Regions from separate parts of the Homo sapiens genome. Here region 1 is linked to region 2. The links come from fine-mapping of genetic effects on gene expression. A gene starts in region 2. The other region holds a variant in brackets. All regions are shown on one strand. Distances are between the middles of the regions. Region 1 overlaps PLXNC1 (plexin C1). Region 2 holds the start of PLXNC1 (plexin C1).

The links.
Region 1: its variant is fine-mapped to the expression of PLXNC1 in whole blood (TOPMed, PIP above 0.99).

Annotation. Positions count from the first base shown.
Region 1 is chr12:94,176,094-94,191,068 of GRCh38, reverse strand. It overlaps PLXNC1 (plexin C1), which reads right to left. Exons shown (of 31, transcript NM_005761.3): 3 at 9,489-9,623; 4 at 4,596-4,696. It overlaps PLXNC1-AS1 (PLXNC1 antisense RNA 1), which reads left to right and starts at 14,606. Exons shown (of 2, transcript XR_007063411.1): 1 at 14,606-14,688. RefSeq lists enhancers at 3,672-4,172, 5,339-5,840. The variant T/C (reference allele first, on the strand shown) is at 7,254.
Region 2 is chr12:94,140,626-94,155,600 of GRCh38, reverse strand. It overlaps PLXNC1 (plexin C1), which reads right to left and starts at 7,024. Exons shown (of 31, transcript NM_005761.3): 1 at 5,568-7,024. The coding sequence starts at 6,629. It also overlaps the pseudogene RCOR2P1. RefSeq lists enhancers at 4,498-4,557, 5,898-5,997 and silencers at 4,758-4,917, 5,398-5,537, 6,198-6,437, 6,568-6,797, 6,868-7,117 and 1 more.

The sequences.
Region 1 (14,975 bases), 35 kb before region 2:
CTTATGTTTTTCTGAGCACATTTCAATAAAGAGAGGTAGAGAAGTAAGGTCATTCCTAATAGTGATGGGCCATGAAGAAAATAAAACAGTAATGTCACTGTGAGTAAGGGGAGGCTACTGAAGACTGGGTAGGCAGGTGCAGAGAGATGTGTGCTCTAGGACCAGACCGTCAAGAAAGAGTCTGCCATAGAAAGATGTGGGGAAGAATGTACTAGACTGAGGAAACAGCACATGCAAAGGCCCTGGGGCAGGAACATGCTTAGCATAGTCTTAAATCAGGATGTCTGGGGTTAAGTAAACAAAGGAGAGAATGGCATGAGAGGTCAGAGAAGTGGTGAAAGGCCAGATCACGGAAAGCCTGGTATGCAGGCCCTGGCAGCAAGGGAGTCAGACTGAGTTCTAAGATGGAAAGCCAGGGGAGGGTATTAAGCTGGGGAGTGACATAATCTGATTTGGATTTTAAATGAATCACTCTTCTTGGAGCGCACTGGGATAGGGGTGAGGGAGCAAGAGCAGAAGCAGGCTTTTGGCCAGGTGTGGTGGCCCACGTCTCTAATTCTAACACTTTGGGAGGCCCAGGAAGGAGGATTGCTTGAGCCCAGGAGTTCAAGACCAGCCTGGGCAACATGGTGAAACCCCGTCTCTACAAAATACAAAAAAAACCTGGGCATGGTGGTGCACACCTGTGGTCCCCACTACTTGGGAGACTGCAGTGGAAGGATCACCTGAGCCTGGGGAGGTCTAGGCTTTAGTGAGCTGTAATTGCACCACTGCACTCCAGCCTGGGTGACAGGATGAGACCCTGTCTCAAAACAAACAAAAGACTATAACTCACAGCCAGTTATCAACAGAAGCCCCCATGTCTTCAACCTCTTCTCTGATTGTTCCTTTCCCCTTCTCAATATTACTGAAACCAGCTCTCCTTCGAGGCCACAGCTTCCCCAGGCCCCTCTCAAGGCCTGGCTGCTTCCTCTCCCTCATCTAGCTGTCCTATTTGTGTCTTGCAGCCTCTTCTGGAAGATCCTTCTTCTCTCTTTCCAACACTTCCTCCCCAGCTTCAAAGCCCATGCTGTCAGCTCAAACCACCCCAGGTCCCTCCTCATTGTGATCATTACAGACCACCCCAGCCCTGGCCACTTCCCTTCGTTCCTTGAATATGTAGCTCCTCACTCTCTTGGTGACTGCGATTTCCACACAGATGATGGAGCCATTTAGTACTCTGGTAACCACCTCAGTTCCTTGACACCTCTCTGCCAATGATCTTGACAATCATATGGCAGACCCTGTCATTGCCAATAACTCCATCCCTCCATGACCTCAATATCAAGCCCCCACAGTCCAATAATTCCCCTTTCCAATTCTCTAGTTCCAACAATTTTTTTTTTTTTTGAGACAGGGTCTCACTTTGTCATCCAAGCTGGAAAGTAGAGGTGTGATCTCAGCTCACTGCAACTTCTACCTCTGGGACTCAAGCAAGCCTCCCACCTTAACCTCCCGAGTAGCTGGGACCAGAAGCACATACCACCACACTCAGCTAATGTTCATATTTTTTGTAGAGATGGGGTCTTTGCCATGTTGCCCAGGCTGGTCTCAAACTCTTGGGCTCAAGTGATCCACCCACTTTGGCCTCCCAAAAAGCTGGGAATATAGGTGTGAGTCACCGCGCCTGCCCCTAACAATCTTTAAACTCAACTTGAACTTCCAACACAGACCCTGCCACCTTTTCACATCCCTACCCCTATCAGGTCCTTATTTCCCTCCTTAGAGCCCAAGTGCCATCATTATATGAATCAACATCCATATCGATATCATCATCCATTCCTTACATGCTCCCTCAGCTCCCTGGCCACTCTCTCCTTTCTTGATGTATTTTCCGGCAAAGCCCCCAAACTGGCTAAAGCTAACTTTTTCTGAGTCTACAGCTATACCACCAAAGCTGAACGCAGCTTGAGAAAGACAAAACCATGCTTACAGCTCTCACTTCAAACACAGGACCATCAACCTCAAGTGGGCCCTAATGCTTCCTGGCAACCGCTCGATATTTCCCTATTCTATTCTCCCTCCTAGTCTTCCAGTCCACTCCTTCTCTCTCTTTTCTCCTCAAACCTCCAGTGCTTCCTCCCTCACCTCATTCTCAATGGCCGTAGGCCACTGAAAATAATGTGAGCAATAGGAGAAGACACCACACAGGCCTCTGCCACCTCCCCATGCTTGGGCCCAGAGTCCCTACCTTCCCTCCTACCACTGAGGGTGAGGGGCCAGTGCTCCTGTCTGAGGCTGGCCTCCCTACTGGCACACCAAGTCATATTTTCTTCCACCTGCTGAAAGACTGAACACTCCACAACCCTTCTCTCTCCTGTATCATCCATTTCTCCTTCTCTTCTGGAATTTTCCCAACAGTGCAGACATGCACTGTTATTTCATGCATCTTAAAAAGACAAAACTGGCTGGGCGTGGTGGCTCACGGCTGTAATCCTGGCAATTTGGGAGGCTGAGGCAGGCGGATCACCTGAGGTCAGGAGTTCGAGACCAACCTGGCCAACATGGTGAAACCCCATCTCTACTAAAAATACAAAAATTAGTCGGGCATGGTGGCACGTACCGGTAATCCCAGCTACTCGGGAGGCTGCGGCAGGAGAATCGGCTTGAACCTGGGAGGTGGAGGTTGCAGTGAGCCAAGATCATGCCACTGCACCCCAGCCTGGGAGACAAAGCCAGAGTCCATCTCAAAAAAAAAAAAAAAAAGGACAAAAAGACAAAATTCTTTGGACTCTACTTTCGCTTTCAGTGTCTGCTTCATTTTTTTCAGCTGCCTTTCTCAGTAAAGCTTCTCTAAGCTGTCCCTTCTTAAGGTCTTATTTTCCCATTGTCTCTTGTGGATTTAGCGCCACTCCTAACCATGGCATTCCCAGCAGTCACCCATTGTCACCTGCTAAGTGCAAAGGATCCATTCTTTTCTTCTCCTGCTTGACCTCTCAGCTGAATCTGACCCAGTGGATCACTTCCTCCTCCTTTCTTTCCTTGGCTTCCAGGAGACCACCCTCTCCAGTTTTTCCTCTTCCCCTTCTGACTGCTCCCTCCTTATTTCTTGTTCTGTTTCCCCTCCTTCTCCCCAACCCCTAAACACCACAGCCCCTCAAGGCCCAGTTCTCAAACTTCTCTCCTCAATCAACACTCACTCCTTCGTCTGGTCTTAAGGCTTCTCTAAGTACCATCTAAAATACTACCAACTCCCAAATTCATATCACCAGCTTGGAGATCTCCCAAAAGCTCCAGAGCTGAGCTTGTTAATACGTTAGCCGCTAGCTCCATGTGGCTATTTAATCACCACCATCATCGCCACCATTATCGAATTGACTCCTGTACACAGCTCTACAAATACAGACAGGGATGCTACATAAATGAATGGATCTAAAAGATTATGGCAAGACTGCTCACTGAGTGTGCAACAAACAAATCCCGTTCGTGATCAGTGAATTATTCATGAGCATTTTTCTGGCCCTTGCTTCGTTTGTCTGCCAGTGACTCTGACGGAAACAGCCCGGTAAGGAAGCGTAGCAAATGGCAGGGGCAATTATTCCTCTTGCTGCAGCTCGGATTGCGCCTTCCCCCGTGAACTCTTAATTAATTCCATCCCCGTATTTTTGATTTGTTTCCTAAACCTCTTGCTTGTATTGCATTTCCCCCTCTCCCTTCATTTCTCTTGGCTGTCTCCCCCTTCAGTCACCAATTCTCTTCCTCCTGCTCTTTTCTAAACCCAAACTGTCCCCTGGTTCAGCCTTCAGCATCTCTCCACCTGCTCTGCTCTTTCTTATCCTTTTCACCTTTAAAAACTGAAAGCACCAAACTGACAGACACTGTTATGGGTTTTTTTTTCTCTCTCTCTCTCTCTCTTTCCTGCCTGAGCTGCAGCGAAGGCTCTCTCCTCCTTTGCTTCTCCAGCAAGAGCCCCAGTACTGGGTTGCCATGGCGACGGCGAATCCAACCAGGCCGGGCCCAGCGACGCTAGGAAACTGCCATGGCGGGGAAGCCGCTCCGAGTCGCCCCTGAGCCTAGATGGGTCGTGAGCATCGTCATTCCAGACCAGGCTGGGCAGATTCTGCCCGGAGACTGAGATTGTACATCAGGCCCACAGCTGCGCGGCGCATTAGGAGACGGCGCCATCAATAACGAGGCTTCTGCGGAGCGAACAGAATACATGACATACATGATGGGGATTCAGCTGAAAAATTTTCAGACATCTCTATTCTTTTATCTTCTCGGAGGGGGGGCCCTTTTGCCTCTCTCTTGAGTCTTGGCGAACTCTGGAGAAAGTAAAAGCCAAACCTGCCTGCTCTCTCCCGTTCTCCTGAAGGCTGCACACCTGCCCCTCCCGCCCCGAGACTGGGGAGCTCCCGGGTCCAGTGATTGCATAGCACGGACGCCGCTGGAAACACCTTCGAGAATTCATTAGGATTGCACAACAAGATTTTAGTCGAGGAAGAGATCAGTTCCCTCAGGTCACTGGAATGGATCGTTAAAGTAGGGCAACAAGTGTTCTGCCGCATGACACTTTTTCAAAAATGCGAGTTGGTGAGAAAGAATTCAGGAGATACCTTTGTAGCGAATGGCACCAACCGCAGTGAGGGTCTGTGGCTGTTAAACACTCCGAACAGGATTTATGTTTATTGCAGTTTGCAACACGAATTCTCCTCACCTAAAAGGAAAGAGGACAATGGTTCAGATGGAATTATAAGCAACAGCAGGAAAACTACAACACCTTATCTAATGAAGGGCCAAAAAGAGCCTATTTATCAACTTGAACTCAACACCTCCATACTGGCACTGGGCAGTGGGTCTCAAGATCTAGGACATGAAGTCATTGTATCACAATCACCTGGGGAGCTTTTGACAGTGCGTATTCCCAGGCCTCTGCCGCAGAGACTCTCGCTAAGTCTGGGGGCAGAGCCTAGGAAGTTGTATTTTTTCATTTAAAAGATTTTTTTCTTAAAGACACAGGGTCTCACTACGTTGCCCAGGCTGGTTTTGAACTTCTGGGCTCAAAGCACTCCTCCCAAAAGTGCTGAGGTTGCAGGCGTGCACCACTGTGTCTGGCCAGGAATCTGTATTTTAAGAGCTCTCTCTCAGGTGAGTCTGACACCCAGTTGGGTTTCCGATCTGCTAATGATGATTTCCATACGGATCATGGAATCAGGTTGCCTGGTTTTCATACAGAGACAGTCCATATGTGGCCAATGGCATTTTGGAAATGAGTATTAGGGAATAACAAAGGCTCTGCCCCAGGAGTGTCAGCAGGAGTTTGGCACTCAATGTGGAAACGAGGAGGACCAGGGACGAGGCCCTCCCACACCCCTGCCAGGGGCAGCGCCGTCACCTCAGCTCCTGGCTTGTTTTGCTCACACCCCTCCAGTGGAGTTGAAAATAAAAGAAACAGGGGGAGTAGTCAAATCATTTCCCCATCCCTAGAGCTGCCTCTTGCCATTGTCAGGAAACAGCAGCCCACAAAGAGGGCACCCCAGCTGGGCAGACCCAGACATCTAGGCAGCCAGTCAGAGCCTGCAAGTAGGGCGGTGAGAGGCAGGGAGTAACTGAGCATCACACAGAGCACTTTCTGCAGGCAAAACCACACAGCAGGTAGTAAGGGAACTTGTGGAACTCATTATGCCAGGAAGTTGTACATGCTAGATAGTATAAATAACTTCTTTAGCAGGTTAGAGAAATAAGGAGTTCTAGAAGGGACCTCTCTATTTTTCTCTATTTTGTGAGGAAAACAAGGACTATCCTGAGCTGGATCCTTCAGTTCCAAGTTGACTTCATGGAGGATAACCACGCCCTTCCATTTCATAGTCCCCAACACTGCTGACAGATGCAGCTGGCAGCCCGTGATCCTGAGCCGGAATTAACCAGAATAGAGGTATTTCCTTGTAGTTCACAAATGCCTCTGTAACACTGATGGATTTTAATAAGTGTCATGCAATCTCTCTAACCTTGTTTCCTCATCTGTAAAATGGATCACGACTTCATGGGGTTATTATGAACTATTGTCTGACAGGTACTAAATGTTCAATAAGTATTGGTTACTGCTATTATGCAAGAAAAGGGCTCCATGATCCAGCAAACATAAAACCTCAGACTGAAAAAGCAAAACGGGTTTCCTTAGCACAGGGCTTCTCGGAGCCTTTGACTATGCTGAGCCTCACAGTATTCCAGGAGGGGTATAGTAAGTAACAGCTGGTTCTGGGACCACTTTTGCTCAGAGCATTCTGTGGAATATGGGTCTCCAGAACATTCTCTGAGAACTATTACTCAGTCTATTTAAACACACAAATATAACTCTGTATAAGAGGGAGGACACTGGCTGGCCGTGGTGGCTCACACCTGTAATCCCAGCACTTTGGGAGGCTGAGGTGGACAGATCACTTCAGGCCTGGAGTTGGAGACCAGTCTGGCCAACTCTGTCTCTACTAAAAATACAAAATTTAGCTGGGCATAGTGGTGGGCGTCTGTAATCCCAGCTAGTCAGGAGGCTGAGGCAGGAGAATCTCTTGAACTCAGGAGGTGGAGGTTGCAGTGAGCCAAGATCACACCACTGCACTCCAGCCTGGGCGACAGTGAGACTCTGTTTCAAAAAAAAATGAGAGAGGGCCAGGCGAGGTGGCTCACGCCTATAATCCCAGCACTTTGGGAGGCTGAGGTGGGTGGATCACCTGAGGTCAGGAGTTTGAGACCAGCCTGACCAGTATGGTGAAACCCCGTCTCTATTAAAAAAAAAAAAATACAAAAATTAGCCGGGCATGGTAGCGTGTGACTGTAGTCCCAGCTACTAGGGAGGCTGAGACAGGAGAACTGCTTGAACCTGTGGAGGCGGAGGTTGCAGTGAGCTGAGATTGCGCCACTGCACTCCAGGCTGGGTGACAGAGCAAGACTCCATAAAAAAAAAAAAGAGAGAGAGAGAGAGGACACTAAAAATACTACATTAGACCTGCCCTCTAATTTAATAACAGACCGTAGTGACTATTCCATATCAATGCCTACATCTCCATATGATTATTTTTAGCGGCCCCGTATCATACCATTTTATGGATATCCCATAGCTTATTAGTTTGGCTGTTCTTATCTCCCCAAGAGCCTTCCTTGGACTTTGTCTCTTTAGGCGTTATATTTGCTCAGCCAGAGTTCAAACAGTAGGATCTCTAGCAGTAATCCTCAGTGAAGAATGCAGGGCTAACCAGCTTTGATGCCCAGTCAAAAAC[T/C]CTTCCCAGGACTTCAGGCTTTGAATGATCAGAGGCTAGAACTTTTTGCTTTCTAGAAAGTGGGAACCCATCAACTACTGGTGGCTTTTCATAATGGTTCCCAGCCTGGGGTCCTGAGTTCTGGGGTTCCATTACTATCCATGAAGGAAGTAATGGGGGCTTATGAGCTATTTGCAATATTTCAGACAGCTGAATGGAAAAACACGCATGGATTAAGGAAGATATCAAGTTTCTTTGCTTTGGGTTGGAATTTTATCAGCTCCATGTGGGAACACAGTCAGTACTCTGACCGGCAGTTTTGAGACGCCCTTGATAAATAAACCCTGGGAATGGGAACTGTTACTTAATATGTGCAGTTTGTTGGGTAGACAAAAGTCTTTCAAAGATGGGATCCCCAGGGAAGAAACATAATACAAAGTGTCTGCATGGTGAAGCAAATTGGCATAGGAGATTCTATATGGTGAAGGACTGGTTTACAAGCTCTGTGGGAAGATGTGGCCATCTCAGTGTGGTCATTTTGATATAACTGACTTTTCAATGTGCAAAGAACAGTATCGTCTTTATAAGAATACCAGAAACTACAAATTGCTTGCACATCTTATCTGTGACTCAAAAAGCACATGTAGATTGCTGTCATTGCTATTTTCCTTAGAATGACTGAAAGGAAAAGAATGGAAAACCAGGGTTGGGCTGAGAGTATCTGTTACATCCATTATATAATTATGTAAGTCTCAATTATCTTCTTTGCACTTTCCATGTTCAAACGGTCATAGGTCAAAACCACTGAGCCAGGGAATGTCCAGTTTTCACAAATTTTGGATTTAATATCATTTATCAGAGGCTTTAGAATCAGGGTTGAGTTTTTGTCACAGCCCTGCAAAGGCTAACCTATAGATAGATAGATAGATGATAGATAGATAGATAGATAGATAGATAGATAGATAGATAGATAGATACAGATATTCTTGAACAAGTTATTTAACCTCTCCAAGTCTTAGATTCTTCACATAAAATAAATTAATAACACATTTATTTTTATTAAATTAATAACACATTTCTTTTTCTTCTTCTTTCTTTTTTTTTTCTTTTTTGAGACAGAGTCTCACTCTGTTGCCCAGGCTGGGGTGCAGTGGTGTGATGTCAGCTCACTGCAAACTCCACCTCCTGGTTTCAAGCGATTCTTGTTCTTCAGCCTCCCAAGTAGCTGGGATTACAGGCATGCACCACCACGCCCAGCTAATTGTTTGTATTTTTAGTGGAGATGGGGTTTCATCATGTTGCCCAGGCTGGTCTTGAACGTCTGAACTCAGGTGATCCCTGCCTTGGCTTCCCAGAGTGCTAGGATTATAGGTGTGAGCCACCATGCCCAGCCTTTTTTTTTTTTTTTTTTTTTTTTTTGAGACAGGGTCTTGCTCCATCACCCAGGCTAGGGTACAGTGGTTTGATCATGGCTCACTGCAGCCTTAAACTCCTGGCCTCAAGTGATCCTCCTGCCTCAGCCTCCCAAAGTGCTGGGGTGACAGGCATGAGCCACTATGCCCGGTCAGTAACACATTTCATTAACACTGTTTTCTACACTTGTGTGTATGTATATGTACACAATTCTATGCACCTAGACAGAGATCATGCAAAGAATAGTGACTAATGCATAGTAGAGACTCATTAACAATTAGTTTCTTTTCCCCTTCCCTTGGTGACAGCACTTGGTAAAGATGAAGAAAATATAAAAATATATTACTTTTATTTCAGTAAGCAGAAGCAAAAGAAAAGCCAAAACAGCAAGATAAATGAAGAGGGGGAGGGGGAGTACCATATATTTCCTGGTTCATGAATGTGTATGAGACTGTGGCCTGATATTAACCCCAAATTCCAAAGCCAGTCCCATTGGGTATATTCATAAATGCATCTAACCGTTCAGTGCCCACACAATAAATGTGTAAATTCAGTTACCTTGCTGATTATGCGCCCATTTCCAAGCACACCCTCCTCTGAAAAACTTGGCACTGGAAATATAGCCAATAATAAAATTGTCTAAATAGATAATATTTCTTGCTTACTTACTGACAGTCAGTAAGGTTTTTAATTCCGTGCCTGTGAACCACTGCGGGTCTCCTCAAAGCCTGGGGCACTGCTTAAACTCTGTAGTTCAAAGTAAAAGCTTTGCTACTAGATAATGACATCAATTAAACCATTTTTATTCATAAATCAGAAGCAATAACTAGTATTTCTACCTACCTCTTTCCCAGCTGTTAGATAAATGTAGATATTCTTCACAGGATCAGGAACGAGTTTGTAGAAAACAGGTGTCTCTTCTTTAATTTCATAGATAACCTCTGGACAATTTGAAGTCAAATTCTCACCAAGAATAACCTATTTTTTTTTTTCAAAAAGAGAAACATGATTTCTATTTAATACTTTTTTTTTTTTTTGAGACGGAATCTCGCTCTGTCGCCAGGCTGGAATGCATTGGCATGATCTTGGCTCACTGCAACCTCCGCCTCCCAGGTTCAAGCAATTCCACTGCCTCAGCCTCCCAAGTAGCTGGGACTATAGATGCACCACACCCAGCTAATTTTTTTTAGTAGAGATGGGGTTTCACTACGTTGGCCAGGATGGTTTTGATCTCCTGACCTCGTGATCCACCCGCCTCAGCCTCCCAAAGTGCTGGGGTAACAGGTGTGAGCCACCACTTCCGGCCTCTATTCAACACTTTGAATAGCAGGGTGGCAAAAATTGTAGCTTAATCATAAAGCTACATCCTTTTTCACTCACTACAAATACTGCCTAAGGTACCATGCTCCTTAATCATCCTCCCACATCTCAGTCCTCAACAAGGCTGGTAATAACAAGCATAATATTTCTTCTTTTGTAAAGGCAAAGTTACCAAAAATGAACAAACAAAAAAAGCCGCTCTTCAGGGCTGGGGTAGTATCCTCATATGTGGAAGCTGGCTGACCACAATTTCTGACCATGTCTGGCCCTATAGGAAGCCACAAGTGACAGCTTCATTAGTGCTGTCTCAAGAGAGACTGGAAATTAAAGGAAGTAGCTCCCACATGTATTTGCACAGGATACTCTGATCATCATACAGTTAGAAGTGACCCAGATTAACTTGGCAGATACAGACAAGTAGGTTTGTGTTCACATATAAAATATACGCAAGTGTGACTCAGTACTCAGTGGTTTTGAAATTGGACACACCTGAGCTTCATCCATCTTCAGTCAACAAACATCTACCCAACACCCATTATGTACCCAGCACTGTTCTGGGTGTTTGAAAAATGGCAGTGAACAAAATGGGGAAGGGAGAGCTCCTGACCTCATAGAACTTACATTCCTGTGTGTGTATGGTGGGGTGAGTAACAGCAGACTATTAATAAGAAAAAAGTAAATTATAAAATATAGTGGGGTCAGGGGTTAAGAGAATATATGTTCAGGGTAGGTGTCACTGAAAAGGTGATATTTATTTAGACTTGCAGGAGATGAGTTATTTTCATACTTGAATGAAACATGTTCTTAAAAGCAGCCCTGTCAGTGCAAAGAAACTAAAATGGGAGGAGGCCAGGGTGGCTTCAGTGGAGAGAGGTAGAGGAGTGAACAGTAAGATAGTAAGATAACAGGGGAATGATAATCAAGGGTCTTGTGGGCCTGTGTAAACAGCCTGCCTTTTACTGTAGATGAGAGAGAGGAGGCCATGGCAGGGCTTTGGGTCAAGGAGCAAGAGGAGATGGTAAGAAGGCAGGGTTTGAAGTGTGGGTATGAAGAGCCATCGGGAGACTCGAATCCTATAGTGCTAGAGAAGTATAATGGTGGCTTAAGCTTGAGTTTGCATCCTGCCTCCATCCTTTAAGTAGCTGCACTACTTTGAACTGGTAACTTAATCTCCCTAGGCCTCAATTTCCTCATCTCTAAAATGGGGCTAATAGTGCCTTCCTTATTACAGTTTTGTAAGGATCAAATAAGAACTATGAAAGATGCTTAGCACATAATCAATAGTCAATAGATAATAATCTGTTACTAGATTGCAAGCTCCTTTTGCGCAGGGACCATGTCATTTTTTTTTTTTTTTTTTTTTGAGATGGAGTCTTACTCAGTCGCCCAGACTGGAGTGCAGTGGTGCGATCTTGGCTCACTGCAACCTCTGCTTCCCAGGTTCAAGCCATTCTCTTGCCTCAGCCTCCTGAATAGCTGGGACTACAGACATGCGCCACCACACCCAGCTAATTTTTGTATTTTTAGTAGAGACGGGGTTTCACCATGTTGGCCAGGCTGGTCTTGAACTCCTGACCTGAGGTGATCCGCTCGCCTCTGCCTCCCAAAGTGGTGGGATTACAGGCGTGAGCCACCGTGCCTGGCCTGGGACCATGTCTTAATCACCTTTGTACCTAACCTTTAATCTTCTTTGTACCTAACACAATTTGTACCCACTACTTTGAAAAGTGAAGGTGTTCAACATTTTGTCAGTTTGAACACATCCAGATAGATTATCTGTATTCATATCTCTACCACTGTAGACATCAGCCACATTGGGCGCATGGTTTCAAAAGAAAAATTTGGCACCTGAGATTCTTTTTGGACAAAGTCTACTTCACACATCTACTAATCAATAATATGCCTGTTCCCACATATCCTGATGGCAGTTAGGGATTTGCTGTTTAGCCAAAGGCTTCTTATCAATTTTGCACAGAGCAACTTCCCGCATTCACTTCTCCTTTCCAGGACCTGGGCCCGAGTCTAGCTTTGCCCTGCGATCAGTGACTTCCTTCCATCATCTGCTTGGGCCAAGCCCAGGTGGATTTGGTGCAAATAGTGGCTCACTTGAAGCCCTTGGACTGCTCATCAAATTCAGCAGCAGCTTTGTAAAAGTCAATCTCACTAACCAAACATATGAAATATGACTTCTTAAAAGCTCTTTTTAAAACAGAAGCAGTTAGGTCCTAAGGGAGGTGGGAAAGGTGTGTGTCTCAAGTCATTTTAAAACGACTTTATAGCTGCACTATCAAATATGACAGCCGCTAGCCACATAATGGCTATTTAAATTTAATTAAAAATTTACATTTAATTAAAAACACTAGCAACATTTCAAGTGTTCACTAGCTACCTAAGGTGACTGGCTACCATACTGGAGAGTACAGATGTAGAACATTTCTATCACTACAGAAAGTTCTCTTGGCCAACACTGCTCTACAGAATCCTGTAAGTGGAGCCAAGGGACAGGCACTGACCAAGGTATGGGCTTGCCAGGATTTGCCGTCTCTAATTCATTAGCTGTATTAATCAGCTCAGATTCAGTTGATCTGGTTCTGGAAAGCAGTTGTATAGGGAAAGAGAAACAGGAAGCCAGTTTTTGTTTTTTTTAAACAAACACTGATAGAAATATTATCAAGGAAGGGTCAAGAGAAGAGAAGCTGCTGCCCTGGTATCTCTTCAGGAATTCATCATGGCAAAAGCATCATTGGGCAGCACCACCCATAATGTATTCTTGCCAATAAAGTTGAAACTGAATCTAGTCAAGTCTTTAGCACTAACTTCCATTTAGCACTAGGAAGCAGGAGTAGAGGAACAAGCTAAATGACACCACAAGGAAGCAAAAAGCCAAACACATGATAAGAGACATTCTATAGGGCAAAATACCTGGTTTTTTCAGTTAAGTCAGTGGCAGGGAATAAAAGTAAGGGAGGAGACTGCTCTAGATAATAGAACAACCAAATTTGGTTTGAGGACTTTGTGCAGATACCAATTTGAACAAAACCATTTAAAATACCTTTTTGAATCAATTGGGAATACTTAGTTACACAGACTGGATAGTAAGTGATCCTAAAGAATGACTGATAATTTTATTAGCTGTGATCATGGCATTATGGTTACTATTATTTAAGAAAACAACTGTAGGTTTTGAGAGATGCATAACGAAATATGTTGAGGTGAAACGACATCATGTCTGTGGGGTTTGCTTTAAAATAACAAAGTAAAAACATACTTTACACCACCACTCATCCATTTTACGTAAATTAGGAGCTGCACTGCAGTTTTTATTGGGGGCTTATTTTATTTACTCTTGGAGCATCATTGATACAGATGGTCAGCAAGATCTAGTTGGGTGCAACATTGATTTATTTACTTGGTACCTTGGAAATGAAGCATCAATATTCTCTCTAGAACTCTGAATTGTGGCAAGGAAGCTTTTCCTTTCCTTTCTCCTCTCCTCTCCTCTCCCTTCCTTTCTCCTTTCCTTTCCTTCCTTACCTCTCTCTCTTTCTTTTTCTTTCTCTCTCTTTCTTTCTTTCTCCCTCTCTCTCTCTTTCTTTCTTTGTTTTTCTTTCTTTCTTTTTTTACAAGTTATCAAAAAGTTCTGTGGCCCAGGATTTACCAATCAGTTTCCTGAAAAAGCTACTTAGCGTGGCTTGCACTGAAGCTTGTCCTGATAGCCATAGATGCTGGGTTTAAATTAGTATGTTTCCTCAGTGGTGGAAGCCAGACCTCTCTAGAAGGTAATTTGGCATCATCTATCAAAATTACAAAGGACATACCCTTGGACCCTGCAGCCCCTCATATATATATACATATATATATATATATATATATGTATATATATACACACACATATATATATACGTATATATATATACATATATATACGTATATATATATATACATATATATATACACACACACACATATATATACACACACACACATATATACACACACACATATATATATACACATATATATATACACACACACACACACACACACACATATATATGAAATGACATATATTCATTGTAGCATTGTATGTTATAAAGAAAAGATTAAAACAACTTAAATCTCCAGCAATAGGGAACTGGTTAAGTAAACTATAGTACAAACAAGGAAATACTATTTAGCTATAAAAATAATTAGAAAGCTCTTTGTGTTATATTTAAAGTTATATGAAATATGTACATATATCTATAAATATAGACATATTTACATATACAGGTATTTTTACATATATAACATATATGTTTACTGTGTTTTATGTTTCAACAAAAGGGAGGAAGAATATCTTCACTCTTTTGCCTGTAGACAGATATAAACTATCTCTGGAAAGATACCCATGAAACTACTATCATTGGTTGCCTTGGAAGTCAAGACCAGGTGCCTTTCACGGAATATTTTCTTGGTTCTTTTGAGTTTTAAACAATATCATTGTATTACCTTAAAAATAAATATATAACATTTAAATTTAAAAATCCTTGAGGGTGAGTGAGTCAAATTGTTTTTCTTTTTGCTAGATTATGCAAACAATGCTCTCCATAATCCTGAGGACAGGACAAGAGGAAGTTTTAGTTTTCACCACAAAGGTCCCAAATGTGCTACACAGAGGGGTGAGGGATTTCTGCTTCCGTGGCCCCTGGAGTCTCATCTCTCTCAGATGACTAAAGGACAGGTCAGTGTTCATATCATCTCTCACCTAGCCCGAGCCCCAGCCCACAGGCACTAATGGAACACTTGGACTTTCTAATTGCAAACTTCAGGAGAATATCAACACACAGACAAAAGCCAGCAAGACTGGAGCAAGGGAAACGTTCCTTCCTCAGCTCAGTTTAGGTGGGCAGCCTCGGAAAAAGAACATGATCAGTGAAGCAATGCAGGAAGTAACAATGAGTCACAAAAACCCAAAACGGGTTGAATTTTGCATAAGAGAAATCTCATCCAATTCACACACACAATCCT
Region 2 (14,975 bases):
GATCAGTGAGGAGGGAATAAGGAATATCAGGTGGTAAAATGTGTTGGTTACTTTTTATGGCCCTAAGTAAAATGCAAGGGGAAAAAAAATGCGACAAGTTCCTATCCTAGGTGCCTCAGTTGGAACACAAGGAAAATTGTTTTATCTTACAATAGTGGTTCTTAAACCTAAGCATGACTTCAAATCACGTTGAGAGCTTGCTAAAATACAGATTGCCAGTCCCACCCCAACCTCCAGAGCTTCTGATTTAGTAAGTCTGGTGTAGGGTCCAAGAATGTGCATTTCTAGCAAGTTCCCAGGTGATATTCATGCTGCTGGGCCACAGTCCACACTTTAAGGACCACTGCCTACAGCATAAAGCCCTTTCCTCTCATAGTTGAAAGGCAATCAAAAATTACACCATAGAAGTTCCAACCATGCTAGGTTTCCATGGTCAAAAGTAACTCTCAGATTGGCAACACCAGAAGCCTGGTATTCCAATGAATGGAAGTACCTGGGAAGAGGTGAAGGAGTAAAGGACACCATGTAACCTAAAACTAAGGAAGGAAGGGGCCCTGACACATCAGGCATTAAGAAAAAGACAATGATTAAGGGAGTATGAGGTGACCAGACTCCCAGAAAGTGTTGCTGCTGAGTAGAGAAAACATTTCCAACATGATTCTCTACGATCCTTCATTTATTCATTCAACAAATATTTCTGAAGTCCCAACTACATACTGGGTACTATGCTAGGTATGGGGGGTTCAACAGAGAACACCCTTTGAGATGATGTATAGATCAGAACACCAACACTGTCTAGAAGTTCACAGTTAAGAAACTACAATCCTGCCAGAGTCAGAACTTCAGGTGGTCACCAATGCAAACCTAGAAACTCAGCTCATAACTAAGGATTCTCTGCTATCCTATGCCTGTGTCCACAAAAAGCTGGTCTTAGCATAGCAGTTGCAAGGGCTTAGCTTGCTCCATACAGGTTAGGGTTGACATCAGGACCTAATGTCCATGCTGACAGACTGTCCATGGCAGTGGACATGTACACATTATTGCATGTAGTAATTATTTAACCCTTCGTGCTTTGGTTTCTTTATTTATAAGTGGGGAATCCCATTTCCTTGACAGCAATATTCTCTGGATTCATGAGTTAATGTGTATAGAATAAGCACTACTTGACCCATAGAAAATGCCGTGTGCTTTGGATGTCTTTACTATCATCACCATCATGATTATTAATAGTAATAGGGTAGGGCTCCTTAATATAGACTTGTAAGGTGGCTAAAAGCTCAGGTCGTAGAGCTGGACCACCCAGGTTCTAAATCCTCTGCTATTTTCCAGCTATGGAACCTAACAGAAGCTCTCTGGGCCTTAATTTTCTCATCTCTAATCATCATGATAACTACAGTCCTTGCCCCATATGGTGAATGAGAATCAACAGAAAATAAGGCATGTAAATTGCTTCACACAAAACCTGGCCATAATAACTATTCAGTAGATAGTAGCTATGATTGCTTTCCCCTCTTTCTAAGTGGGTGCTGTCATGGCAATTGTCCTTTTTGAATCCATTTTTGCATATAATATGTGTATATGAGGGTAAAATCACCATCTAGTCTATAGACTGCAAAATGGCTTGACAAAATCATAACAGAAGCTGGAAGAGAAATAAACATCACAAGAAGACTGCGGATTTTGAGGTCAATAGGCTGCATCGCCAAGTGGAACTGGGATGTCACTTCTCCACACATGTTCCTTGGGTTGCTCTCTGTTGGGCAGCATGTGAGCATTCTGTGGTTGTCTGCATGACAGTTAAATTATGTCAGGCTTTAGAATTATGTAGGCGTGGAAGAAGGCGGTATGTCCCCCTACAAAGGGTAGAATGAACTAGAGAACAAACTAGAATGATCTAGAGTCCTGTGGACCAATACTGCAGGAAAACGTACTACCCTCAATGTCTACCGAGGGGTGGCTGCCATGTTTAAACCACGAGTGACCCCAGAACCCAACAATGGTGGCCAAACAAGTCTGGAGCAATCAGACTCCACAAACTCGAACACAAACACTTTCTGTGTATCACGTTGGTGTGCCAGGGGTAGTGAGAGTTCAGAAAGGTAGGAAGTCAAATTGATTAACTTGTGCATAATTAAAAACATTCATTTTTATACTAATCCAAGCACAGGTGTGTTATAAAAAAGAATGAAAAAAAGGAAAGAGACCACATGAAGTTCTAAAACACAAGCCAAGATTAGAGGCATGTACTGCCTTCTGAGGTTACCCTCTAGCCTCAACCCCACATCCTAGGGGAGGTTGTTTGCTGCCAATTTAATTAGGGGACCTTCAAGGGAAAGTTCGAGAAACCCTGGGGTGGTGGGAAGAGTAGAGATGTAGACATTGGAAGACCTGGATTTAAGGTGGAGGGCTTTGGCACTTAACTATCTTGAGCAAGCTGCTTAACGGATCTTTAGCCTCCTCATCTGGAAAATGAAATCATCCCCATAGAATCAACCTCAGACTTGATGCGGGGCTCAAAAGAAATAATACATGTGGAAGTGCTGTACAAATATCACAGAAGATTATTAGAGAGAGGGTCTACAGAAATCGGTTGCCTTAGCACATTTGAGAGCTGCAGTTAACCTGCTACAGTTATGAAAGTGGATTCAAAGTTGGTGGCAAGGCAGAAAAAGTAATGGTCCAGTGTGTAAACAGCTGAGTACACACTCATTACACAAGCATCTCGTAAATCACTGCTTAGCAGAAGCTGAAGGAGAGGAGGATCAGTGACAAGAGATAAGAGAACCAGAAAGTGGGAAAATACAACCCAGTCAGTCCTGTCACTTTTCTACCTATGGCTGATTGAAGACGGAAAATAAGAGCCAGCTAGGAGGAGAGGGAGAAAGAAGGCAAGCAAATCCAGCCGCTTGTGCCTTGCAGCCTGTGGATTACTGTTAAAATTACTGTGTCTGCTCTAAAGGAATTGCTGTTGGAATCTATTGAGGTTCCCTCTAGAGTGTTTCAAGTCCTGCTCCTGTTTTAGGCACCTATAATTCAGCATGCCTTTTCAAAAACACATTCAAGACCTGAAAATAAAATGCAGAACAAATGCAATCAAATGACATCATTCTTCTGAGTGACAGCCAGGGGCACACTGATCCCATGACCCCATTACACAAGGTTGCAATCTGCTATCGTCCTTTCAGTGGCAAAATCAGTGGCACCCAGCACAGAGCATTGCTTACACTAGCAGGCATCAAACAAATATTTGTTGAATTGAGTATCTTCTCTACCTATTTAATAGGTTAGAAAATTGTCAGCTTTTTCATCAAAACTACCACCCTTTTTCATTCAAACTCCTCTTGAAATTCAATTCCATTAAGGCTTTTCAATGCATACTAGCAGCAAGGAATTTACTTAAATGAAAAAAAAATGCAAAGCTCCAAGCTCCCACCTGTGCAGCCATGACATGCTATTGTTTGAACCAGAGTATATTATTTAACTTGGCTGACAAGCTCAGGGGGTACAGACCCTGTCTTTCAGAACACACAGCTCTGAGCACACTGGGAGTTCTTGATAAATAGCAGCAAGAAATGCTGTGGAGGGACCCATTTTAATTATTTATTTTTCCAGTTCCAGATTTTTGGCAGCATGTGTTTATCCTTTGCTTGATTTCCAAGGGGCAGCTCTCTCGCAGAAGCTCCGCGACTTCCTCTGCCACTGCCCCTCCCCATCCCGGCACAAGCAGGAACACCTGATTGAGCCAAAACGTGGATTTTGAGTGCATTCAAGATGCTGGCTGGGTTTGGAAGGGAACTGAGTCTTCCAGGACCCAATAGGTAGAGAGACGCAGTCAAGAGAAATGTTTTGGCTCCACACATCGACACAGCTGTCAGATGGCAAAGCTTGGACTTTCACCCTCATTACCTGCTGTGGGCCTCTGAGCTGGCTTGTCATTAACCCCAGAGACTAAGTGTGTCTAAAGCTTGACACAAAGTAATATTTCGGGGGTACTTTCAAGTCTTTCAACAGAGAAGTAGGAAACGATAATTTTACCAAACTTAAACCGTTAGATTATAAAGATCTAATAAAGACAGGAATCAAATATTACATTATATGTGTACGGCAACAGCAAGTCATTTAGGAGGCAAATATGTGTTTTTACATATTTTTAAAAATTATACCAGTAACAAAATGAAGGCCTTAATGTGTGTGTCCCAGCACACAGCTTGACAGGCAAAGAAGCAGCAGCAAGTGACCGTTCTAAGAAGCCTTGCAAAAGACCTCCTGGTTTTTTTCTCCCTGGCTCATAGGGCTAATATTTGGTAAGATGTGCTTTGCAGAGAAAGAAGGGGGTGGGGGAAGCTGTCTTTCTATACACATATTAATATACCTGGGAGCCAACGTGCCCCTGTATCAACACATTTTCCAAGCAGTGACTTCTCCCCTTCCTCTCTGATTCATTTTGTACCAAAACAATGGCAACACCTGTAGCCGTTAATTTCTGCGCTTTGATTTTTGTCCAGTTATAAAGGAGGCTCCCAGCAGGCTCCCCTCTCAGGAGCCATATGTGGAGTTGATGTGCCAGCCGCCTTGGAAGGGAAACGGCCTCCGGAGAAGTGCACAATGGCTCCATAATCCCCATCAACTGGACCCTCTTGAACTGCCTCTTTATTTTCCAGTCAAAGAAATGCCAATCTCAAGATAAAAGCTGTGGCTGCCCTGGGAGCCCAGGGGAAACCTGTATCGCTTGCCTGGTTCAGCCCCAGGGTGGTGACTCTGAGTCCCGCCATCTAGTCTCGCAATCTGGAGCCCAGAAACTGCCTGTAGCACCCCCAACACTTTCCCTTGCACTCCCCTCTAGGATGAGGCTTTTACCACAAGGCCACCTCCCGCCCAGCCTCTCCCGGCGGCTGGCGACCACAGCGCACCCTGAGCAGAGCCACGGCACCGCCCCCTCGCACCGGCTCACGCCAGGGGTTCGGTTCCAGCGCAAGCCTCTGTTGCAGGCTGGCATTTCTCCACGCTGAGCGGGCTAGCAACTCTTCAGACCACAGCACTTGCGTTGCCGGTGGGGGGCGGAGACAGGGGGCCACAAAGGCTGGGGTGTGGCAGGGAGCCCTTTAGGTTCAATGGCTTCTCTGCCGAGGGCACTGTGTTGCTAACTGTTGACCAAGAGGGTCAGACCCACACGCCTGCTGGGACTACACGGAAGGGGCACAGAGAAGTCTGGAGAAGCGAATGGGAAAGAGGGGCTGCGCGAGGAGACTCAGCCCCAAACAAGCGTCCCCGTTTGGACAGGGAAGGATGGCAATGGGATGCAGCCACTAGAGTTTTGAGTCTAACTCCAACCCTCCCCGCCCCCCTTTTTACACTCTCCCTTTGGGGACCTCAGGCCGTGCTCCAGGTCTCGGGGACCGTCCGAGAGGAGCCTTCGGACGGCCGCCCGCGGTGTGAACCTGAGACCTGGTAAATGTCACCCGGCTGTACCCCCGCCCCGCCGCTCGCCCCCAGCTCGTTCTGCCTCGGCGGCGGCGGCGGCTCCCCGGCAGCAGCGCTCTCCGCGGCGCCCCGGGGGCAGGACTTACGCAGTGGCTCTCGGCCGTCTTGAAGTCCCAGCTGACCCTCTTGGCGCGCGCCTGGATCTCACTCATTCTGAAGAGGCAGAGCGCCGTGGTGGTGGGGGAGCGCCGCTCCTGGCCCTCTCCAGCGGCCGCGCTGAACACTCCCGCCCAGACGTCCAGGGCCTCCACTAGGCTGGAGGAGAGGAGCAGGCGGCGGCCGTCGGGGTGGCCGTGGCCGCAGTCGAGGGATGCCTGGCCCTGGAACAGCACCTCGGTGCTCTGCGCGATGCGCGCCATGCTGGGCCAGCCGGTGGCAGCGCCGCTCGTGTAGTTGTAGGGGTAGTAGGGGAAGTAGATGCTGCCGTTCCAGAGAAAGGCGTCCACGAAGTGCAGGCTGCCCGCGCCCTCGCACAGCTTGAGGCGCCCCAGCTCCTGCGTGGCCAGGCTGCGCCCCTCCGTGTCCTTGAGCGCGATGGCCGTGTCGTGGTCGGATGCCGCGGGGTTGCAGCGGCTCGCCGTCTCCGGCTCAGGCAGCACGTAGGTGGCGGCCACCGCCAGGTACCAGCGGTTGTTCCGGCCCGCGCGGTACACCACGCCGGCCGTCGAGCCCTGCGGGTGGCACGACACCACCTCGGTGCCGTTGCGCAGGGAGTTGCGGCTCAGGTTGCCCAGGGGCCGCACCTCGCAGGCGCCCCGGTCGAAGGTCCAGCCGGTGAGCAGCAGCCCCCCGAGGCCGGCCGCCCCCTCGCGGTAGGGCAGCAGCAGCTTGCTGAAGCTGCTCCCGGGCCGGGGCCGCGCGGGGGGCGCCAGCGAGACCGGCTCTGTGCAGTTGCCCGCTTGGTCCCGGTACAGGCGCGAGAGGCTGTGCTCCAGGCTGTAGTCCAGCTGGTCCAGGCAGCTGCCGCTCGCCACAAACACGCCGTCCTCCTGGCTCGCCGCGATGGCTCCGATGGCTTGCTCCGACCGCCACACGGGCTCGTCCGCGCCCCGGCCGGGAGCCGCCAGTGCCAGCAGATAGGCGAGCAGGGGCAGTGGCGCTGCGGGGCGCGGGGGGCGCGGCGGCGCCTTCCTCCGGGAGACCTCCATGGGGCTGGGGGGGCCGCCCCCGGGCAGGGCGCGCGGCGGCGACGGCGGCTCAGGCGCGCGGCAACGGAGACGCGGGCGGCGGCGGCGGCGGTTCCTGCGCGCGCTCGGGCTCCCGCGGCCGCCCCATCCCCGCAGCTCGCCCAGGAAGGAGAGCGGGGAGGGCGGCGCGCGGCAGGCTCGCTCCGGCAGCCTGTGCAGCGGCGGTGGCGGCAGCAAGCCCTGCGCGCTCCGGCACCGTTTCCTCCTCGCCCTCCTTCGCCGGAGAGTTCCTGTGTGCAGCGCTGGCGCTCGCGGGGAGGCGCGGAGGGGAAGGGAGGGGACGGGCGGAGAGGAGCGAGGCGGGCGGGGAGGGCTGGAGAGGTTGGGTGCGCTTGTGCGTTTCACTTTCCCATTGTGAAAGTGGGATGCAACTGGCCCCCTTCCTCATCCTCTCTTCCTCCTCCGCCCTCCGCCTCCTGCCCGCCCGCCCGCCCTCCCTCCACGCCCATCTCCCCTCCCCTCTTGATTCGGTGAGATAGGGAGGAGGGAGGTCTCGTAATTTGGGTTACTGTGTAGGTGGCCTCTTTCATCTATTCATAACAAAGCTCAGCCGCCCGCCGCGGCCGCCGCGGCCGCCACCATCGCCCCCTTGGCTCGCCTGGGGCTCCCGGGGCGCGCTAACGGCGCACGGAGCGGGCTCCCGCGCCCGTCCGCCCGCGGTGCTGCTCCAACGCCCGGTTTTGTTTACGACAGCAGCCGGGTCGGGGATACGCCAGGCGCGCGGAGCGAGGATCCAGGGTGCGAAGGGGTTGCAGCTGAGGCCCCGGGCTCGGGCCACAGGGCTGCTGCGAGAGCGGCTGACAGGTGTGGAGCGGCGAGAGGGAGGCCCCGGGGAGGCGCGCGGGAGACATGGCCGAGCCGGAGACTCCGGGGACCAAGGCGCCCCTGTGACAGGGTGTGGGTTTCCCCGGGTCGGATGAGTGAGGTGGCAGAAAGGCAGGCGCCACACTCTCGTTCTGGACAATCCCCAGGGCCGGAGCGCCCATATTTGCAAAGGTTCTCTAATCTCCCTTGGCAACAGAGTCCCAGGCTCTCAAGCCTAGCACTTGGAAAGTTCTGCTCACCATCTAACCTAATGAGCGGGGCTAACATTTACTGAGCACTTACTACGTGCCGGGTGCGCTTGTGAACTCACCACATGGGTTAAGACTCATAATTCTCATAACAGCCCTATTAATTAGTGACTGTTATTGTCATCCCTACTTAGTAGTCCAGGAGAATGGTTATAGAAAGGTTGTGGAACGTGCTGGCATTCTACTGCTGGTAGATATCAGAGCCGAGATTCGAATCCATATCTAGCCCCAGGGCCTCTTACATACCTGGCTCTAGTTAAGTGCCACCTGTGGCCATTGCCATAATCCCCCAGAGATCATTCTCTGTAGTGAGACTGAAAAGTTCCTCAAGTTAAATGCACCAACCAGCCCCCGCCCTGCTTTCTACTATTAGACCCAAGTCCCCGTATTTCCCTCGAGGCTCTCCATCTGTCTCATCATTACCCACTTTTATCCTTTGGACCCCCTGAGGTCTCACCACCTCACCCAGAGGGTGAATAACAGCTGGGTTGCCCCCACAGCCGCCAAGAATTTCTGAAGCACAGGGAATCATTGCCCACTGGGGAATAGGTTCATGATTTCTCGGAATGGGGCTTCCCAGAGGATGCACAAATGCCTCCCAGCTTCCCGGGGCAGCTGCGGGCACCATCAGCACCCTTACAGTCTGGCAGATGAGCCAGGGGGTGCATAGGAGTGGAGGGTGCTGAGGACCTCTATGGATCGTTGGGAAATGATCTCTGTTCCTTCCCAGGCTATTTCCAGACCCCAGGCCCCAGGGAGGGCAATTGGCTGCTATCCCCTTTCTTCCTTCCCTCCAAGTTCCCCAGCTCGAGATGCTGTTTTGGGAAGGGAAAGGAATGAGGTGGCTTTTGTCCCATGCTGAGTCCTGCCGAAGGTTGCAGGTTTCAAACTTCTCCAACAGTGCTTCAAGTTCTCCCCAGTGCTGAGGGATATGGCAGGAGTTCTGGAAGGCTTAAGGAAAGAAGGGTGAGGTGGAGGGAGAAGAAGAGAAGTGTGAGTTTCTGCTCTAGATGTGAAGTTCAAGGATCCTATCATTTCAGCAGTGGCTCTCATACACTAAAGTCAGAGTGGTCATCTTTTCATTCATAAGCCTTTCATTTGCAATTGGATAACATTATCTTTGCCTGGCAGGAGGCAGAAAATGCCTTCCCACGAGATATGAGGTTGCCCTTTGTGCTGTGATGATGGTGTTGGAGTGTCCATAAGGAGAGGGGAGGAAGAAGGGGAAAGGCCTAAAGTACCCAGTTGGTGTTAATCGGGACATCTCAGGCAAGACAAGTCAGATGTTTCACCTGCTCCAAAATATCTGGCCTTGCTCCCCCACTCCCTGCCCTCCTGGAATGCTTTCAGAATTTTTGCACCTCTGGAAGTGGGAAGATCAATATTTTAAAAACCTCATCCGAAGCTCAGAGACCCCCTCCACAGCATAGTAGGGGATTTATGCGCTGGTGTTTTGACAGTTTTCCCTGTGACTGATGCAGAACTCAGTGACCTTCACTGGCTCCGTGAACCAGCGGTGGCAGTGTCGCTATGTGCTGAGAAGCAACAGTTCAATTCCATTCCAGAGATAGTTTTACTTCACTGGTAACCAAGTCATTTCTCTAAGTCCCGTAGAGTTGGTACAATCAGTCACAGACCATCTTGGGAGCTATTTGGATTAAACATACTCTGTGGTGCGGCATTTTGATCACTACTCAGTTCATTGCTGCTTCATTTTGAAAAAGAAACAACATCTTAAAAATACTACCCACAAGAAGTATAAATGGCTTTGATGGCTACAGTTCCCTGCCATTCTACTGGGACCATAAGCCCCACTCTTAAGAGTGGGCTTCTTTTGCCTCCCATTTAATTGTATGCAGACTCCTACGGTGAAAGAAATCAGAATCTGTGCTAACTTTTTGGCATGAAAAACGTAGGCGACGAGGAAGCATATAAATGCATTCTTTGCTGATTCTACCCCCATTTTGTACAAACATGTTTGCCCCTTCCCAATTTTCTTGTGTACTAAAGCTCCACCTTCAGGACACAAGTTCACATTTGAAAAGTGTGGGAAATACGAACAACTGAAATAAATATTTAGGCATGCGGGTTCTGTATCTCTTTGATCACTTTCTCTTGGACACCACCGTCTGGCCCAGGGGTGCAAGTCCCTTTGGTGACAAAGCTTCCCTCTCCAACTGGCCGAGCCCATCTTGTTGGGTGTCACTTATAGCACATTTCGGAACTCCTTGTAACACAACTGGCTGAAACCCAAAAAAAAAAAAAAAAAAAAGAAGATGGTGCAGATTTATCCTCCAGACAGAGGCCTGCTACCACGGAAACAGGCAGTTCAGACCGATTCTGAGCAGTTTTATTTGCAGCGTTCACTAGATGGGAAAGTCTTCATAATGAGAAAATATCAAGTCCCTCAGGCACCGAAGGCAATCTGGGTTAACCAGGCCATCCACAATCAGACTCATTTCTGGTGGACAGGACTTTATAGATTCAGTGGTTTCCTGCTGGGGCCCAGGACATTAAGAACTGTTCAGTAGGCAATTGGTCACAGTCACAAGATGGCTATCATTGGTGCTTCAGTTTTCTTTCTGATTTTCTTTCTTTTTTTTTTTTTTTTTCATCTGACAGTGGTCTGTAGCATGACTTGGCTGGCAGAGATTGAAAGCAACTGAGAATATTTGTTCTGGTGGTCAGTGAATTCTCTCTAAGCCTCATCTACATAGCTACAACCCCCTGTGCAGAATTTGGAAATACCACCCAGTGGGTGGAATAGTACCTGTATTGTCCTCTTAGGTTTTAAGCAGACCACTTCTTCCTCCACAGTTTTGCTGATATCTATGTGGTCTTCCACATCGAGGCCCTTATCAAAGCTCCCAGGCCCTTTTGGTGGCTGACAGGAAAAAGAAATGAGCCAGTCTTCTTTCTAGTCTGCTGATGAGTAGATGGTTGAAAAAAGATTAGAGGAAGAGCTGTTTAATAAGTTCGCATTGGTGCTGAGAGATGAGTTGGACACAGTTCAATCAACATGAAAAGTCTCTCTGACATGGCACAGTTAAGACGTGGCTGAAGGAACTCAGTGCCTCATCCTCTCTGCCCACCCAACATGGCCCCAGACGATTGCTGGGCATTCTTATGCTTGGTGATAGTGCCCCCATGCCATGGTTTAAAGTGAGGAAGGCTTGTGGTGTTCCTTCAGTAGGTGGGACTTGGGGGTCACTCCCAACATTACAGTTGTCATCTTTTTCTTTGTCATGATTTAATAGCTCATGGTCATTCGCCAGCAGAGTGCAAATGTACACTGGAGGGTGGAGTGGAACGTACAAGAAAATGACTCTTTACTCAAAGTCCAATGACTGTCTTTAAGCTAAATAAGAGCATTCACTCTGCTTTAGGGAGGGATGAGCTATTGCCTAAAAAGACATAACATAGCATAGCATAGCATAGCATAGCATAGCATAGCATAGCATAGCATAGCATAGCATAGCATAGCATAGCATAGCATGCCATAGCATAATATAATGTCAGATATGTTTAAGAGACTGCGAAGTCTAGGACATCACCTTAGCATTCTAGCACCACACTTCTCAGAGAGTATGTTTAGTGTCATGAAGTTTCTCTCGAGCCTTTTCTCCAAAACATTCACCAAAACCATCAGTGGTTAAGAATCTGAGACAATTACTGGTTGAAAGCAAAGTATGGTAAATCATCAACCATCACAGTGTTTTTCTAGACCGGCTGGAGTTCACCCTGCATGAAGTATGCGAACTCATCAGTTAATTACTTCTTCAGATTTGGGGAATCTCTGTAACTTGAGCAGTCTCTTGAAAATCAAGCTTTTCTCTGATATTCACAGGATTCCAGTCTGTCTCTCCTTGTATTTTCCTTGCTGTTCTTCGGAAATAGGAAGCCAAAAGGGCATCAAGGACTAGACACAAAACGCTGATTCCTCTTTAATACAACGTTGTTTCCCGTGTCTTTGCCCTCCCATCACAGCTCTGAGACTCGCTGTCAGCATAATCCTAGGCTCTGAATCCTCTGATAACTGGCAGCTTGGCATAAACCCATTCTAAGAGAAGAGCTGCCAGAAACCAGGCCTTCTTATTAATAATAACTCCAACTCTTGAAATGAATAGCAGAAGATAAGATAAACACGCAGATAACTTCACAGCCACTTGTACTTCCGCTTCCTTGAGATTCTGGTGGGGAGATGCTCTGAGCTGACAATAAAGTTGCTGGACTTCGCAGTGAGCCCTCTAGTGCTCTCCACCAAGCTGGTGTGGCTTCTCATTCTTATGTCCTTGCCACTCCCTAGAAAATAGCCCCACCAAGGTCGGGAGGAAGCAACCAATATCAGCTCTGAGCATGGGCTCTTGCGGTCGGGCAGTTTGGCGTATGGCCCCAGGGTGGGGGCAGCCCCACTCATCACCCATCCTGGGGAAGCCCTGGGAATATGGCAGTCCAAACAGCATCTCTCAGGCACTCATCCCCACGCACAGAATCCCAAATGCAAAGTTCATGGAAGACCGAGTGTTTGCCTCGCTCTCCTGCCCCTATTTTTTTTTTTTTTACAAAGCCTTCATTGAAGTATGACTGTCATACAAAAATCCATACCTATTTATTATATACAACATGTTGTGCTTGGAGATAAGTCTACACCCTTGAAACCATCACCGCAATCTCTTTCACCCCTTCCCTAGTCCTTCCTATTTAGTTCTTCTTCCCCGTCTGTGTTGAATAGTCTCTTCTTCTCCCTGCAGACCATTTCCCCACTGCTCCCCCTTTTGCTTGAGACCCAGAAGTTTGACATTTATGGACATCACCCTTGCCTTTTGGCTTCTCGTTGGATTCAGCCAATGGGAAGCCCCAGCCAGAGATCTAGGGGTGGACAGCTAGGGTGAAGTTTGAATATTTATTCTCCCAGCTCCCTCTCTGCTGATCTATGCATTGGCCATGGCTGTGTCCCTCTACAAGGCCACAGCTCCTGTGGGCTGTCCTCTCTCACAGCTACACTGTAGCCACAGCCTTTCGTGGACCCAGTAACCACTCCCTCACCCTCCTCCTCAGGCCTGTGGGATTCCATGGTTGTCGCTGTGGCTAGCCTCTGCTGGTCTCCCTTCATCCTGGCATGGCTCGGCCATGGTCCCTCAATTAATGTATCTGTTTGCATGTGTCACCTGTTTCCTGCCAGAATCATAACTAACAAACCAATCTACCTCCAAACATGGATCTAGAGGTGACCCCAAATGATGTTTAAACCTGTACATTCACTTTGTCCACTGATGGAAAGCAGAAAGGCTGCTAGTCAAAATGGAACTCCTTTGTTTCCAAATGGTTGGTTCCCCTGAATCTGGCAATGGAAAAAAAGCTACATTTTTATTCCCTTTGCACAGGCTTTCCTACACTAAATTCAACCCGGTGATACAGACAGATGGAAACCTGGCTGGGCAGGATTTTTTTTTTTTTCAGTTAAAACATAAAACTAAAAGAATCTTAAAAGTAAATCAGAACTACTGGGGACTAAGGGTTCAGAAGGTGGTGGGGGCAGAGGGTGGTTATGATCTCTAAAATTCTGCTGAACGTTTGAAATATATTTTCAAACAAGATACAAAACCAAGCATGCCGCTTTTTCCTTTTAAGACATTTCTCCTTAAGTCTGAACTCCAGCTGTCCCTTCAATAAAGTTGAGAAATTCCATTGATATTCATTATTACCAAAGCAGGATTATTAAGAGATTGCTATACTTCCTCATCTCCAGACCTCACCCTATGTCGCCCCCTACTAATAATGAAGAGATAACTTGGATGTTTTTGGTTCCTTTATACTCAAGGAAACCTATGTAGTAGAGACAGGAACCCTCTAAAGATGCTACTTTTTTTTTTAGAAGGTTTTTCTTTTTTAACTTTTAAAACATGTTGAAAAGTAAATCCATGTCTGCATAAGTTCCCAACCCACATTTCTCCAAGCTTCTGGAAGGTGGGCCTGGTGGGCACCCTCAGCTCCTTAGTGTTTCCCAGCTGGCCCCTGAAGACAGAACTTCCCTTCCAGCCTCTGCTGCTGTAAGGCCCCTCTGCCACCTCCCCCTGCAGCCTCCCTTCCCACCTCACCCAAGACTGATTGCTAAAAGAAGGGAAGAGGAATGAGAACAGCCAGCACACCCAACTGTCCTGTCCCACCCCCACGCTAAGGTCCCTACCCCCGACACACAAAGGGCAGGGCCCAGAGACCAAGCCCCAGCCAACTAGGAGGCAGCCATTCCAGTCCCAGCAAGGAAGCGAAAGTGCCCTCAGTCCAGCTCAAAGGCCCCTGAGCCCGGGCCATGGCCCCAAGAGACAGGCCCAGCTGCCAGGAACACATGCAGAACCCACAGGTCCAGGCTGGGCTGTCGGCAGCTCTGGGTCTTGGAAAGACCTGGCAAGAGCCCTAGCCCCTTCCGTCCTCAGTGACACCAGAGATGCCTGGGGATGGCCAGCAAAGAGGTCCTGGAGCCTGTGGTTGGTGGAGGACCTCAGGATTCAGAGTGAGGGCACTGGGGGCTCCAATCAGGGTGGGTAGGGGCGGAGGGCCAGGACAGGCAGCCAGAGCGGGGAGGATGAGAGGTGGTGGGCGCTGGTTGGGGGCCAACCAGGGCTGGAGGAAGCGGCCCTGCTGCACTGTGGGTGGCTGTCAGAGCAGAGTGGGAGCCGTGGGCAAAGGTGGCCTCAGCAGCAGGGGGCACCTAGGGCAGGGAGGTGGGAGGTGGAACGGGGGTGGTGCAGGGGGGCACCGATCGGGACACAGACATGGAGATCGATGTAATCTGGACCTCATGATCTTCTTCTTGGGCTGGGGCTAGCAAGGGAGCCCCTCTCCTAGCCTCCTCCACGGGGACTGTGGCTCCACGGGCCCCATCCTGCTCAGCCTCCCATTCCTGCAGCACCTCCTCCAGATTGAAGCAGTGCCAATAGCTCACAAAGAAGGTCTTCACCTGGGTCAGAGTCTTGTTCCCAATCACCTCTGCAATAGCCCCAAAGTCTGCCATACCTCCGGATGGCTTAGGCAGCCAAAAGCTGCTCCTCTGTGGTCCAGCAGGAGTTGAACTTAGTGTTGGCCTCCAGAGCGCGGAGTGGATCAATGGCGCCCTCCAGGGCTTGGCGCAGGCTGCTGTTCCTCTGCTTTATGCTCTGTACCTCTCTCTTCGGGTGTCCAGCATCGGGCTCTCCTTCACTCAGGCCTCCTCGACTCTCTTCGAACTCATCACTGT